Linked DNA regions of Homo sapiens: all the other regions are linked to region 2. Evidence: fine-mapped expression QTL. A gene starts in region 2. Each other region holds a variant in brackets. All regions are shown on one strand. Distances are between the middles of the regions.

The links. PIP is the estimated chance that this variant, and not a neighbour inherited with it, causes the effect.
Region 1: its variant is the best candidate, but not a certain one, in a credible set for the expression of OPHN1 in T cells (TOPMed, PIP 0.68).
Region 3: its variant is the best candidate, but not a certain one, in a credible set for the expression of OPHN1 in tibial artery (GTEx, PIP 0.62).

Annotation. Positions count from the first base shown.
Region 1 is chrX:68,397,137-68,401,377 of GRCh38, reverse strand. All of the region lies in intron 2 of OPHN1 (oligophrenin 1), which reads left to right. Among named protein-coding and RNA genes, the nearest start is that of OPHN1, 34 kb to the left of the region's middle. The variant C/T (reference allele first, on the strand shown) is at 1,731.
Region 2 is chrX:68,431,863-68,436,103 of GRCh38, reverse strand. OPHN1 (oligophrenin 1) reads left to right here and starts at 2,609. Exons shown (of 25, transcript NM_002547.3): 1 at 2,609-2,936; 2 at 3,080-3,237. The coding sequence starts at 3,084.
Region 3 is chrX:68,079,658-68,083,898 of GRCh38, reverse strand. All of the region lies in intron 19 of OPHN1 (oligophrenin 1), which reads left to right. Among named protein-coding and RNA genes, the nearest start is that of NXTAR, 300 kb to the right of the region's middle. The variant G/C (reference allele first, on the strand shown) is at 1,798.

The sequences.
Region 1 (4,241 bases), 35 kb after region 2:
TCTAGAATCTTTCTAGAGCGGGCCAAATGCCACCACCTTTGAGGATATCTTCTCAGTTAGAATTAACCCTTTGTTCCTTGATGTTCACTTACATGTTGTTTACACTGTACTTGTAGCTGTCTGTCTCATTACTAAGTTAGCTGTATTGTGAATATCTCCCTTCCTTCTTTGGAGAGGGATTGGTTCTGATTTATTACTGTATATCTAATATGGTTTGGATTTGTGTCCTCACCCAAATCCCATGTTGAATTGTAATCCCCAATGTTGAAGGTGGTGCCTGGTGGGAAGTGAAAGGATCATGGTGGCAGTTTCTTGTGGTTTAACACCATCCTCCTTGGTGCTGTCGTCATGATAGTGAGCTCTTGTGAGAGCTGATTTTTTAAAAGTGTGTGGCACTTCCCCACCTCTTCTTGCCCCTGCTCTGGCCATGTAGGATGTGCCTGAAAGAAAAAATAACAACAACAAAAGACATGCCTGGCCAGGTGCAGTGGCTCACACTTGTAATACCAGCACTTTAGGAGGCAGAGGCGGGTGAATCATCTGAGGTTGGGAGTTCGAGACCAGCCTGGCCAACATGGCGAAACCCTGTCTTTACTAAAAATAGAAAAATCAGCCAGGCATGGTGGTGCACGCCTGTAATCCCAGCCACTCAGGGGACTGAGGCAGGAGAATTGCTTGAGCCCAGGAGTCGGAGGTTGCAGTGAGCCGAGATCATGCCACAGCACTCCAGCCTGGGCAACAGAGCGAGACTCCATCTCAAAAAAAAAAGAAAAAAGAAAAAAGAAAAAAAAGAGAGAAGAAAGACGTGCCTGCTTCCCCTTCGCTTTTCCCCATGATTGTAAGTTTCCTGAGGCCTCCTTAGAAGCAGAAGCCACTATGCTTCCTGTACAGCCTGCAGAACTGTGAGCCAATTAAACCTGTTTTCTTTATACATTACTCAGTCTCAGGCATTTTTTTTATAGCAGTGTGAGAACAGACTAATACAATATCTCATGCTGATTAGCACAGTACCTGGCTCATAATATCACCGGTAGAGGGTTGTGACTGCAAGTTGTCCAGGTTCTTGGCGTTTTGGACAAAGAATTGGACAAAACGCCCTGCAAAGCAAAGAAAGAATGAAGCAACAAAAGAACGAAACAGGGATTTATTGAAAACAAAAATATACTCCACAGTGTGGAAGCAGACCCAAGCAGTGGCTCAAGGGCCCAGATACAGAATCTTCTTGGATTCAAATACCCCCTAGAAGTTTCCCATTGGCCATTTCATGCTCACCTCATGTAAATGAAGTGGTAGCCCAGAGTCAGTCTGATTGGTTGCAGAAAGCAGTCGACCAGAGGCTGAAGTGAAGTTACAAAGCTCACACTCCTCTGCAAACATCCTATTGGTTACAGAAAGCAACCAATCAGAGCCTGTAATCCCAGCTACTCAGAAGGCTGAGGCGGGAGAATTGCTTGGACCCGGGAGGCAGAGGTTGCATTGAGCCAAGATAGTGCCATTGTGCTCCAGCCTAGGCAATGAGAGCGAAACTCTGTCTTAAAAAAAAAAAAAGAAAGAAAAAAAAAGAAACTAAAACAAGACCAATGTAGTTGGAAGGTATGGAGTAGTTGCCCAATCACTCAGGGCCTATAGGTCATGCTAGGGAGATATAGCGTGAACCCCTCAGAGGGTTTTATTTATTTATTTATTTATTTATTTTTATTTATTTATTTTGAGACAGAGTCTTGCTTTGT[C/T]GCCCAGGCTGGGGTGCAGTGGCACGATCTCGGCTCACTGCAACCTCTACCTCCTGGGTTCAAGCATTTCTCCTGTCTCAGCCTCCTGAGTAGCTGCGATTACAGGCATGTGCCACCACGCCCAGCTAATTTTTATTTATTTATTTATTTTGTAATTTTAGTAGAGACGGGGTTTCGCCATGTTGGCCAGGCTGGTCTTGAACTCCTGACCTCAAGTGATCCGCCCACCTCAGCCTCCCAAAGTGCTGGGATTACAGGCATGAGCTACTGTCCAGCCCCTCAGATGGTTTTAAATAGGAAGATTCAAGTGATGTGCTTTATATTTTGAGCTTACTCTGGCTGCACAGTGGAGAATGAATTCAAGACAGGCAAGAATGGGTGAAGGGAGACCGGTTAGGTGGTAGTTGCAGTGGTATAGGTGGAAGAAGTTGATGGCTTGGATGAGGGTGGAGATGGAGAGAACTGTATTAATGGGATATTTAGGAGTTTACATAAATCGGACTTGGTGATAAATTGGATATGGAAGGTTGGGGAGATGGAGATATCAAAGATGGCTCACTGGTTTGTAAATAGATGGTGGGGCCATTCTTTGAAATGGTTAATTCTGGAGAGGACCAGTTTTGTGGAGAAGGTTTGGCATATTATTACTATACACACACACACACACACACACACACACACACACACTTTTTTTGTTTTGAGACAGAGTCTTGCACTGTCACCTAGGCTGGAGTGCAGTGGCACAATCTCAGCTCACTGCAAACTCTGCCTCCTGGGTTCAAGTGATTCCCGTGCCTCAGCCTCCTGAGTAGCTTGGATTACAGGCGCCCACCACTACGCCTGGCTAATTTTTGTAGTTTTAGTAGAGACAGGGTTTCGTCATATTGGCCAGGCTGGTCTCGAACTCCTGACCTCAGGTGATCCGCCCACCACGGCCTCCCAAAGTGCTGGGATTACAGGCGTGAGTCACTGGGCCTGGCCAGATTTTGTATATATTTAGGACCCTCCCTGATTCCCAGTCTAAGGTAGCACATTGCCTTTAAGTTAGGGCCTTAGCTGTCTGATATTGTGTAAATGTGATCCTAATTCAAGACAGGCGGACCAGAGCAAGTGACTTCTTTATAAACCTGATAGCCCTGTGTTTCTGTGTGGTTTCTTTTCCACCATTAAATGCATCATCACCACAGCAGTGGAATACATAGAAGGGGTTGGAGAACATTTCGTGGGTTTAAAAATTTCAAGTGAAAAATATGTTGGATTGAAATCTTTGGAAACTATTCCACTGGGCTATTATAGTTGCAGCTGAAAACAATTAATGGAGCAGCAGATGAAAAACCAAAACATGCAAGCATTGGGGCACTGTGGAATAAGGGGATCATTTAGGTGGGCCTTTCTACCATTGGATAGGGCATAAATTGAGAAAAGTGCACATGTAGTCATGAGCAAGTATTAAAGTGTCTCCCCAAAATACTAGCAAATAGTGAGCTAATAAATGGAGGTGGAGAAAAATAAAAGGCAAGGGACAATATAAGATCAAAGACAGCTTCTGTTTCTTTGCAGCATTTTGTGCCCCCACTCTGGCAGGTTTTCTACAGATGCTCTGATCAGGAACCAGCTGGCCCCAGGGCTGGCTCTCAGTCTCTCCTGGCAGTCCCCACACCCCAAGCAAGATCATTAAATCATCCTTTTGTTAAGGGACGATGGGAGGAGCCTAATCTGAGAAAAAGAAAAGTAAGGAAGAACAGGGTTACACCTGCCAGTGATAAAAGGAAGACTGTGGCAATAAGGGAAAAAAGCCCAGGGAATTAAGAAAGGGTTAACCTGTGGCCAGGCACAGTGGCTCATGCCTATAATCCCAGCACTTTGGGAGGCCGAGGTGGGTGGATCACTTGCGGTCAGGGGTTCGAGATCAACCTGGCCAACGTGGTGAAACCCTGTCCCTACTAAAAATACAAAAATTAGCTGGGCGTGGTGGTGGGTGCCTGTAATCCCAGCTACTTCGGAGGCTGAGGCAGGAGAATCACTTGAACCTGGGAGGTGGAGGTTGCAGTGAGCCGAGATTGTGCCACTGCACTCCAACTGGGGCAACAGAGTGAGACTCTGTTTCAAAAAAAAAAAAAAAATAAATAAATAAATAAAAGAAAAAAGTGTCAACCTAACATAACAGACCAAAAAAAAAAAAAAAAAGAACATAAAAGACAAACAGAAACAGGCTGTCAGGATTCAGGATGTGATAAGGCTGCAGTATGGAAATGGATTCAGCTACCTGGGAAACTTGCAGAGTTGCAATTGAAAAAGTTAATGATGTTCTCCGATAAGAAGCCTGGGGCACTGAGAAGGCCTGTTTTGTAACTCTGGGAATCCTTTAGCCAGCCACTGTGGTCCCTGGTTTATAGCCAATTAGAAGTTAGAAAGAAAAATGGAAAAAACAACCAAAGGAAAAAGTTGTTAACAGCTGCTATGATTTTATCTAAATAGAACTTCCATTACAGGCTGTGAGAAGATTAAAGA
Region 2 (4,241 bases):
TTTCTTCTTCGGTATTTGGTCTAGGGAATTTGTTATTTCTGTGCTTTAGTTTCATTGTCTAGATAAAGGATAACACAGATGACTGTAAAACACTTTGAGTATAGGAACTCAGATGAGTATGATTGAATCTAACATCAATAATGTCAACAGCAGCTGGGCATGGTGGCTCACACCTGTAATCCCAGCACTTTGGTGGGGGCTGCAGTGGGTGGATCCCTCTAGCCCAGGAGTTTGAGACTAGCCTAGCCAACATGGTGAAACCCCGTCTCTACAAAAAAATACAAAAATTGGCCAGGTGTGGTGGCATGTGCCTGTAGTCCTAGCTACTCAGGAGGAGGCTGAGGTGGGAGGATCACCTGAGCCCAGGGAGGTCGAGGCTGCAGGGAGCCGTGATTGAGCTATTGATTGCACTTTAGCCTGGGCAACAGGGTGAGACCCTTTCTCAAACAAAAAAATACATAAATAAATAAAATTTTAAAAAATGTCAATGGCAATTTTTATAGTGATGAAAATATATGTATAGGCTTTATAAATAAAAGTATATAGCAGGTGTTCAAAAAATGCTTGTTAAACGAGTGAATGAATGCTAAAAGGAAACTTACTAGTGTGAAAGACCATATACCCATTGAATGGGTACCTTCCCTTAGTACCTGCATTTTTCAACCCATGGTGCATTTAAAGCTCATTTTGGACATTTTCCCATAAATTAACCTTAAAGATAAAAAGAGTAAGAAACAAAACTTTCCCCTGAGATGTGGCTACTTATTTATTTTCAGAGGGCGTTTTCTCATTGCCATTCTGCTATATAGTGTAGTGGTCAAGAGCACTACCTCTAGAGCCAGCCAGGCTGGGCTCAAGTTCAAGTGCTGCCATTTAACTAGCTGTTTGTCCTTCGGCAAGTCACTTAAACTCTCTTTGACCCAGCTTCTCCATCTTTAAATGGGTATAATAATAAAACCATCCTCATAGGGTTGTTTTGAAGATTAGTGAGATGGGCGATAGGTTGTGTGGTGGGTAGAATAATGTTTCCTCCTTCACAGATGTCCATGTCCTGAAACCTGTGGCTACGTTATCTTATGTGGCAAAATGAAATTTGCAGATGTGATTAAGGATGATGTGATGGGGGAGATTATCCTGTGGACCCAGTGTAATCATAAGGGTCCTTAAGGGGAGGCATGAGAATCACAGTGATGTAGCATGAGAAAGACTTGACTGGCCAGTGCTAGCTTTAAAGACGGAGGAAGGGAGCTATGAGCCAAAGGATGTGAGCAGCTTGAGCCGGAAAAGGTAAGGAACCAGATTCTACCCCTAGACTATCTGAAAATGAACACAACCCTTCTAACATCTTGATTTGATCCCAGTGAGGCCCATTTCTGATTTCTGCCTTCTGGAACTGTAGATTATAACTTTATGCTGATTTAGGACATCAAGTTTGTGGTAATTTGTCACAGCAGCAACAGGACCCTAATTCAGGTGGGTCAGCCACTATTATTCTATTTACAACCCCCTTCCGTTCTGGCTTTCTTCACAGGGCAATCTAATGTAAACACTTCTGCAGAATTAAAGGGATCTCTTTGCCCACGCACAAACTATTTTTTAGTTTTTCGAGCCTCTACCTACCCTTAGTCTCAAGACAGCTGCCTTTAAGGTAAGCTGCAAGACAATTTATAACATCCTATTCTTAGACTTTCCACTTACACATGGAAAATCATATGCATTATCGGCGTCTGCCACAAAAGCCATGCTCTGAGGTCCTATTCAGGAAAATATTAACTCTGAATTATGGCCTCCCTTTCTTTGGCAGGGGGCACTGAGCTTCACGGAGACCCTAGAGTAGGAATCAACCCTTCAGGTCGAAGGCCCAAGGGAATTAGAGCACTTAGAGCAGGAGACATGGGAAAAGAAAGAGGAAAAGAAGTTGGTAGGTCCGAAGGAGGCTGGAAAGAGGGGAAGGCAAAAGAATACACAACCCAGCCGAATCATGGGAATTGAGAGATGGCTTCCTGCAATCTAGTCTTGCGGGTTCTTGCTCTAGTTTCGGAAACTTCCCCCGCAGAGTCCAGCGCCGCGCACCTGCCCCTTGGGGCCGGTCCCTGCGCAGGAGCCTGCGGCAGGCTGGGAATGCCGTTCTGGGAGAGCAGCCTCCCAGGCGGGGTGGTGGGGAGACTGCAGGGAGGAGTCTTGGGGAGTGCAAACGGAAAGACTACATCTCCCAGGCCGCCACGCTTTCCAGCTGGAGTCCTAGGGCGCTGACTGCTCCCCAGTTTCCGTAGGGAAGCGCTGGGCTACCGCGGCTATTGTGCGTCGCGCTCTCGCCCTCCTCTTCCCGCTGCAGTGTCTATGGAGCGAGGCTACGTTTCATTGCCGCCCTGGCTTAACCCTTCCGGCGCCTAAAAGGACGGCCGGCCGGCCGGCTCCCTTGCACCAGGAAGAAGTCTTAGCAGCCAGCGGGCCCTGGTCAGGAAACTCTAAGGTACAAGGAAAACAGTTGAGGAAGGAGCCAGAGCGCTCCGGTTTGGTCCTCGGGCTTCGCTGGGGCGGGGCGCAGGCGTTGGCTTTAAGAAAGGGGAGGGGACAGTGCAATCCGGGTTGCCCGCGGAGTTCGGCCAAGGAAGTCTTCCGCTCGCTCCGGAGCGAGGAGCCTGTAGAGAGGCTGTTCCCAGCTCCAGCTCTAACCTCGCCTACACCTTGGGCGGGCCCAAGTGTCACGTTTGCAATTGCTCAGGAAGGATCCGGCCCGTCTCCGGAGGCAAGTCGGGCTGCGGTTTTTGCTGCTTATCTGGGAAGGCGATGCCTAAGGGACATGCTGCTTGCTAGGCAGCACCCTGCCGGGATCCGACTGCGATAGTTAGCTCTCCCTGGCCCTGAAGCCATCGCCGGGGCGCCTGTTCTCTGTCCGGACCAGCCAGCGCTCCTCAGGAGTCTCACTGAAACAGGTACCTGTCCTCCAAAGGGACGGAGGCTATGAGCTTCCTTAAGCGGGTCGCGCGCTCAGTCCGTCCCCTCTACTTCCTCTACTGTGCCATTGATGCTCTCGGTCTTTGTGTCTTTCCCCTTTCCCCCTACTCCCGGCCATCAGAACCATGGGTCATCCCCCGCTGGAGTTCAGCGACTGCTACCTGGACAGCCCCGATTTCCGCGAGAGGCTCAAGTGTTATGAGCAGGAACTGGAGAGGACCAACAAATTCATCAAAGACGTAATCAAAGACGGCAACGCGCTTATCAGCGCTATGAGAAGTAAGTGCAAGGCTTCGATGAGCTGTTTCTCTGAGCTGGTGTGTCTGGCCTTTAAGCCTTTCCACACCACCAGGGGAAGGGAGATTGCAGGGTGACTCCCAGCCCAGATCTCTGAGGCAAATGGGTTTCCCACACTTGGGGAGTGGAGATAGTAGAAGTGGAAAGTGGTGGATACAACCAGAACTTTGGGCCTTTTCCTTTAGTGGTTTTGACCTTATAAGACGTGATCCGTAGCTGTGCCAGGGACCCTCTTGCTCAGCAATTACCCTTACTTGGCAGATGATTGTTCTTAAGGGACAATCTGCTGTACTGTTAGACATATTCAGCACCCCTGTCTGGGGCAAAGTGACATCCAAGCTGACCAAGGAACTGCCCCAGCACCTCCTAAACAATTGGGGATTAAGGTCAGCAGCTTGAATAATAATTTTGTCCTGGTCTCTGGTTGCTACAGATAAGTGTGGGGGGCAGTAAAAAATTCGCCATGGCAAGTTATTTTTTAAGGAAAGCACCTTTGCCCCAGTGAATTATTTTCTTTATCACACTGAGCTATGGTTTAGGTCAAGGTCAGTCTAAGTTCAGGATTATTGGATGGCTTCACCTGCCACTGAATTCTGCTTGAGTGTGGAACAAAGAGCTGACTACTTAGTCCCTGCCACAAGGGGCCCAGCCCCCAGGGAGTAAAATAGGGATAGGGTTGGGGGCTGCTGGGCTGAAGGAACTTCACCTAGCTTCGCTTTTCCAGTGCTCACAGCTGACTCAGCTGTGGGAAGCTCTCTCCTTCCCCCATTGTGTGTGGAGGTTTTTTTTCTGCTTGTTGGTAGGAGGCTTGGAGTAAAAGAAAGAATAATAAACATCCCCAACGAGAGTGCAGGCAAGCCAACCCTTTATGCCAAAGCATATACACAGAAGAATGGAGGGTAATGATTGGGTGGAGTGATAATTAATTTTTTCTCTTGGCTGAAAGATGATTGTGAAAAATAAACTCAGAGTCATTGGCAAGTATG
Region 3 (4,241 bases), 350 kb after region 2:
TAATAAGTAAATGTTGTATGTTCTGACTGCTCCGCCGATCAGCCATTCCTCATCCCTCTCCCTCTCATGCTTCCCTATTCCCTGAGACACAACAATATTGGAATTAGGCCAATTAAAAACCCGACAAAGGCCTCTAAGTATGCAAGTGAAAGAAGGAGTTGCATGTCTCTCATGTTAACTCAAAAGCTAGAAATGATTAAGCTTAGTTAGGAAGGCATGTTGAAAGCTGAGATAGGCTGAAAGCTAGGCCTCTTGTGCCAAACAGTTAGCCAAGTTGTAAATACAAAGGAAAAATTCTTGAAGAAAATTAAAAGTGCTACTCCAGTGAACACACAAATGATAAGAAACCAAAATAGCCTTATTGCTCATAGGGAGAAACTTTTAGTGGTCTGGATAGAAAATCAAACCAGCCACAACATTCCCTTAAGCCAAAGCCTAATCCACAGGAAGGTTGTAACTCTTCAATCTGTGAAGGCTGAGGAAGTAAGGAAGCTGCAAAAGAAAAGTTTGAAACTAGCAGAGGTTGAGGCCGGGCGCGGTGGCTCACGCCTGTAATCCCAGCACTTTGGGAGGCCGAGGCGGGTGGATCATGAGGTCAGGAGATCGAGACCATCCTGGCTAACAAGGTGAAACCCCGTCTCTACTAAAAATACAAAAAATTAGCCGGGCGCAGTGGCGGGCGCCTGTAGTCCCAGCTACTCGGGAGGCTGAGGCAGGAGAATGGCGTGAACCCGGGAAGCGGAGCTTGCAGTGAGCCGAGATTGCGCCACTGCAGTCCGCAGTCCGGCCTGGGCGACAGAGCGAGACTCCGTCTCAAAAAAAAAAAAAAAAAAAAAAAAAAAAAGAAACTAGCAGAGGTTGGTTCATGATGTTTAAGGAAATAAACCAGTTCCATGACATAAAAGTGCAAGGTGAAGCGACAAGTGCTGATGTAAAAGCTGTACCAAGTTATCCAGAAAATGCAGCTAAGATCATTGATGAAGGTGGCAACACTAAAAAACACATTTTCAGTGTACATGAAATAGCCTTCTGTTGGAAGAAGATGCCATGTAGGACTTTCATAGCTGCAAAGAAGTCAATGCCTGGGTTCAAAGTTTCACAGGACAGGCTGACTCTTTTCATTAAGGACTAATGCAGCTGGTGAAGCCAAGGCTCATTGACCATTCTGTAAATCCTAGGGCCCTTAAGAATTATGCAAAATCTACTCTGCCCATGCTCCATATGTGGAACAACAAAGCCTAAGTGACAACACATCTGTCTACAGAATGTTTTACTGAATATTTTAAGCCCACTCTTGAGACCTACTGCTCAAAAGAAAAGCTCTCTTTCAAAATATCACTGCCCATTAACAATGTAGTAATCACCCAGCAGCTCTGATGGAGATGTGCAAGGAGATTAATGAATGTTGTTTCCATGCCTACTAATACAACATCCATTCTGCAGCCCATGGATCAAGGAATAAAGTAACTTTCCAGTCTTATTATTTAAGAAGTAGATTTCATCAGGATTTAGATCCCATAGATAGTGATTCCTCTGATGAATCTGGGCAAAGTAAATTTAAAACCTTCTGGAAAGCATTCACCAATCTAGATGTCATTAAGAATATTAATAATTTATGAGAGGAGGTCAAAATATCAACAAAATAACAGAGGTTTGAAAAAGTTAATTACAACCTTCATGGCTGACTTTGAGGAGCTTAACCCTTCAGTGGAGGAAGTAACTGTAGATGTGGTAGAAATAGCAAGAGAACTAGAATTAGAAGTGGAGCCTGAAGACGTGACTGAATTGCTGCCATAT[G/C]AGGATAAAAGTTCAATGGATGAGAAGTTACTTTTTATGGATGAGCAAAGAAAATGGTTTCTTGAGGTGGAATCTACTCCTGGTGAAGATGCTGTGAACATTGTGGAAATGATAACCAAGGATTTAGAATATTGCATAAACTTGGTTTACTAAAGCAGTGGCCGGGTTTGAGAGGAGTGACTCCAATTTTGAAAGAAGTTCTGAGGGTAAAATGCTATCAAACAGCATGGCATGCTACAGAGAAATTTTTTTTTGTGAAAGGAAGAGTCAATTGATGCAGCTAACTTCATTGTTGTCTTCTTTTAAGAAATTGCCATAGCCACTCCAGCCTTCAGTAAGCACCATCCTGATCAATCAGCAGTCATCAACATAGAAGCAAGACCCTCCACCAGCAAAAAAGGGTATGATTTGCCAAAGGCTCTGGTGATTGTCAGCATTTTTTAGCAATAAATTATTTTTAATGAAGGGATGTATACCTTATTTTTAGGAATCATGCTATTGCACACTTACTAGACTACAGTATAGTATAAGCACCATGAAACCAGAAAAAATTGTGTGGCTCAGTTTATTGTGATACATATTTTATTCTGGTGGTCTGGAACCAAATCCACACTATCTCCTAGGTATGTCTGTATGTTACCTCATTCAACCATCACAACAACCCTATGAGGTAGATGGTATCACTATTCTCATTTTGCAGCTGACATTTTCAAAATGCAAACTGAGCTTCAAGTTTGAGATTCATATAGTTTAAGTTTCTTGCCCCTGGTTACATAGCAAAGCTCCAACACAACTGACTCTGACTCTGTCCTGACTCTTTGACCTCTACTTTGTACTCTCTCACCTCTATTTTGTACTCTCTCTTCCCAATTATAGTTGGTGAAGGAATAAATGAAAAAAAAAGTTCTATTATTTAATATGCTCTAAAGGGCCTGGTAGCCAAAATTCATCCATTCATTTTAAAAACTGTCATTGAGCTGCTTTATCTTGCCTCGTGCCCTACTCAGCCCTAGTCTCTAGAGAGGAATCACGAAAAAAAATCTCTGCTGTCAGAAAAGTTATGGGACTTGGGGGTATCTGGAACCAACTAACACTCAGGATGCAGTGTAATAAAGACTGTGGTGAAGATGTGCATTGGATGCTGTGGGAGCCCATGGAAAGGGAACTTACCTCTCTATTGGGAATCAGAGAAGTCTTCATACAGTGGGTAATGCATGATGTGAGTCCTGAAAATCAGAGGAGTAGATTAATTGATTAACCTTCTGTAAGAAAAGTCCTCCTATAACAGAGGACTGCAAATTATTTGGCTTAAATATGATGGAGAGGAGTTCATTTTTCTCTCACATAAAAGTCTAGCAGTGAATAGTCCAAGATCAATGACATACTTCTGCCATCCTCACCACTTGGCTTCAGTTTCTTGATCCTAGATAGCTATTCCATTTGTCCCCATTTACTAGCCAGAGAGAAAGGGAAAAAAAGACAGAATGTAATACAGACAGCTTCTTCATAAAAGCATGACCCAGAGGCTTTCATGCATTATTTCTACTTGTATTCTGTTATCTAAAACTTAATCACATGTCCTTACCTAGCTGCAAGGGAGACTAAGAAAGGTAGGCATGGGTGCCCAGCTACCATTCAGTGACTTCCATTAGTAAAAGTAAGAAGGGGAAGGTGGGTACCAGTAAGCAATTAGCAGTCTCTTCCATAAAGGGTAAGAGTGAAAGTGTTCTGTGTATAGATCACTCTGGATACATACAGGAATGAGACACCAGAGAAATTAAGTTCCATAAAATAACCAAAGAACTAAATAACTAAGAGACTAAAGAACTTTAATAATTCAGCATGGCTATAGTGGAGGGTGAATGTAGGGGAATAGTGGAAGATGGGGAAGATGGGGCTGGAGATTTCAGGATGTGGCCAGATTATTGAGTACTTTGTGTGCTAACTAAGGAATTTGGCCTTTGTCCCGAAGACAGTGAAGAGTCATTGAAACATTTTAAGCAGTGGAGTAACACAATTAGATTAGAGTTGAGAAAGATCACTCTACCTGCACTTGGGTAGACAGATTAAAGACAGGAGTGGCTGGAGACAGAAGGAACAATTAGGAGACTATTATAATCATAGAGAGACATGATGAGACTCAACCAAGTCAGTGGTAGTGAGCAGAGGGGACAGATTAGAGAGACATTAAGGAAGTATAATTGATAGAACTTGGTGACTAAATGGATGTGGGATGTGAGAGAGGGGGAGGATTTTAAGATAATAATGTCCAGATTTGTGGCTTGGACATTGGCATTGTTTTAGATAATAAAAAATTTTAAGGGACGAAAGTGTTTAATTCTAGAAATGTTGAATTTGAGATACCTCTGGGATATCCAGAAGGCAACATTGAGCAGTTAGTTAGATATATTGGTATAGAAACCAGTAGAGAAACTTGGTAGTGC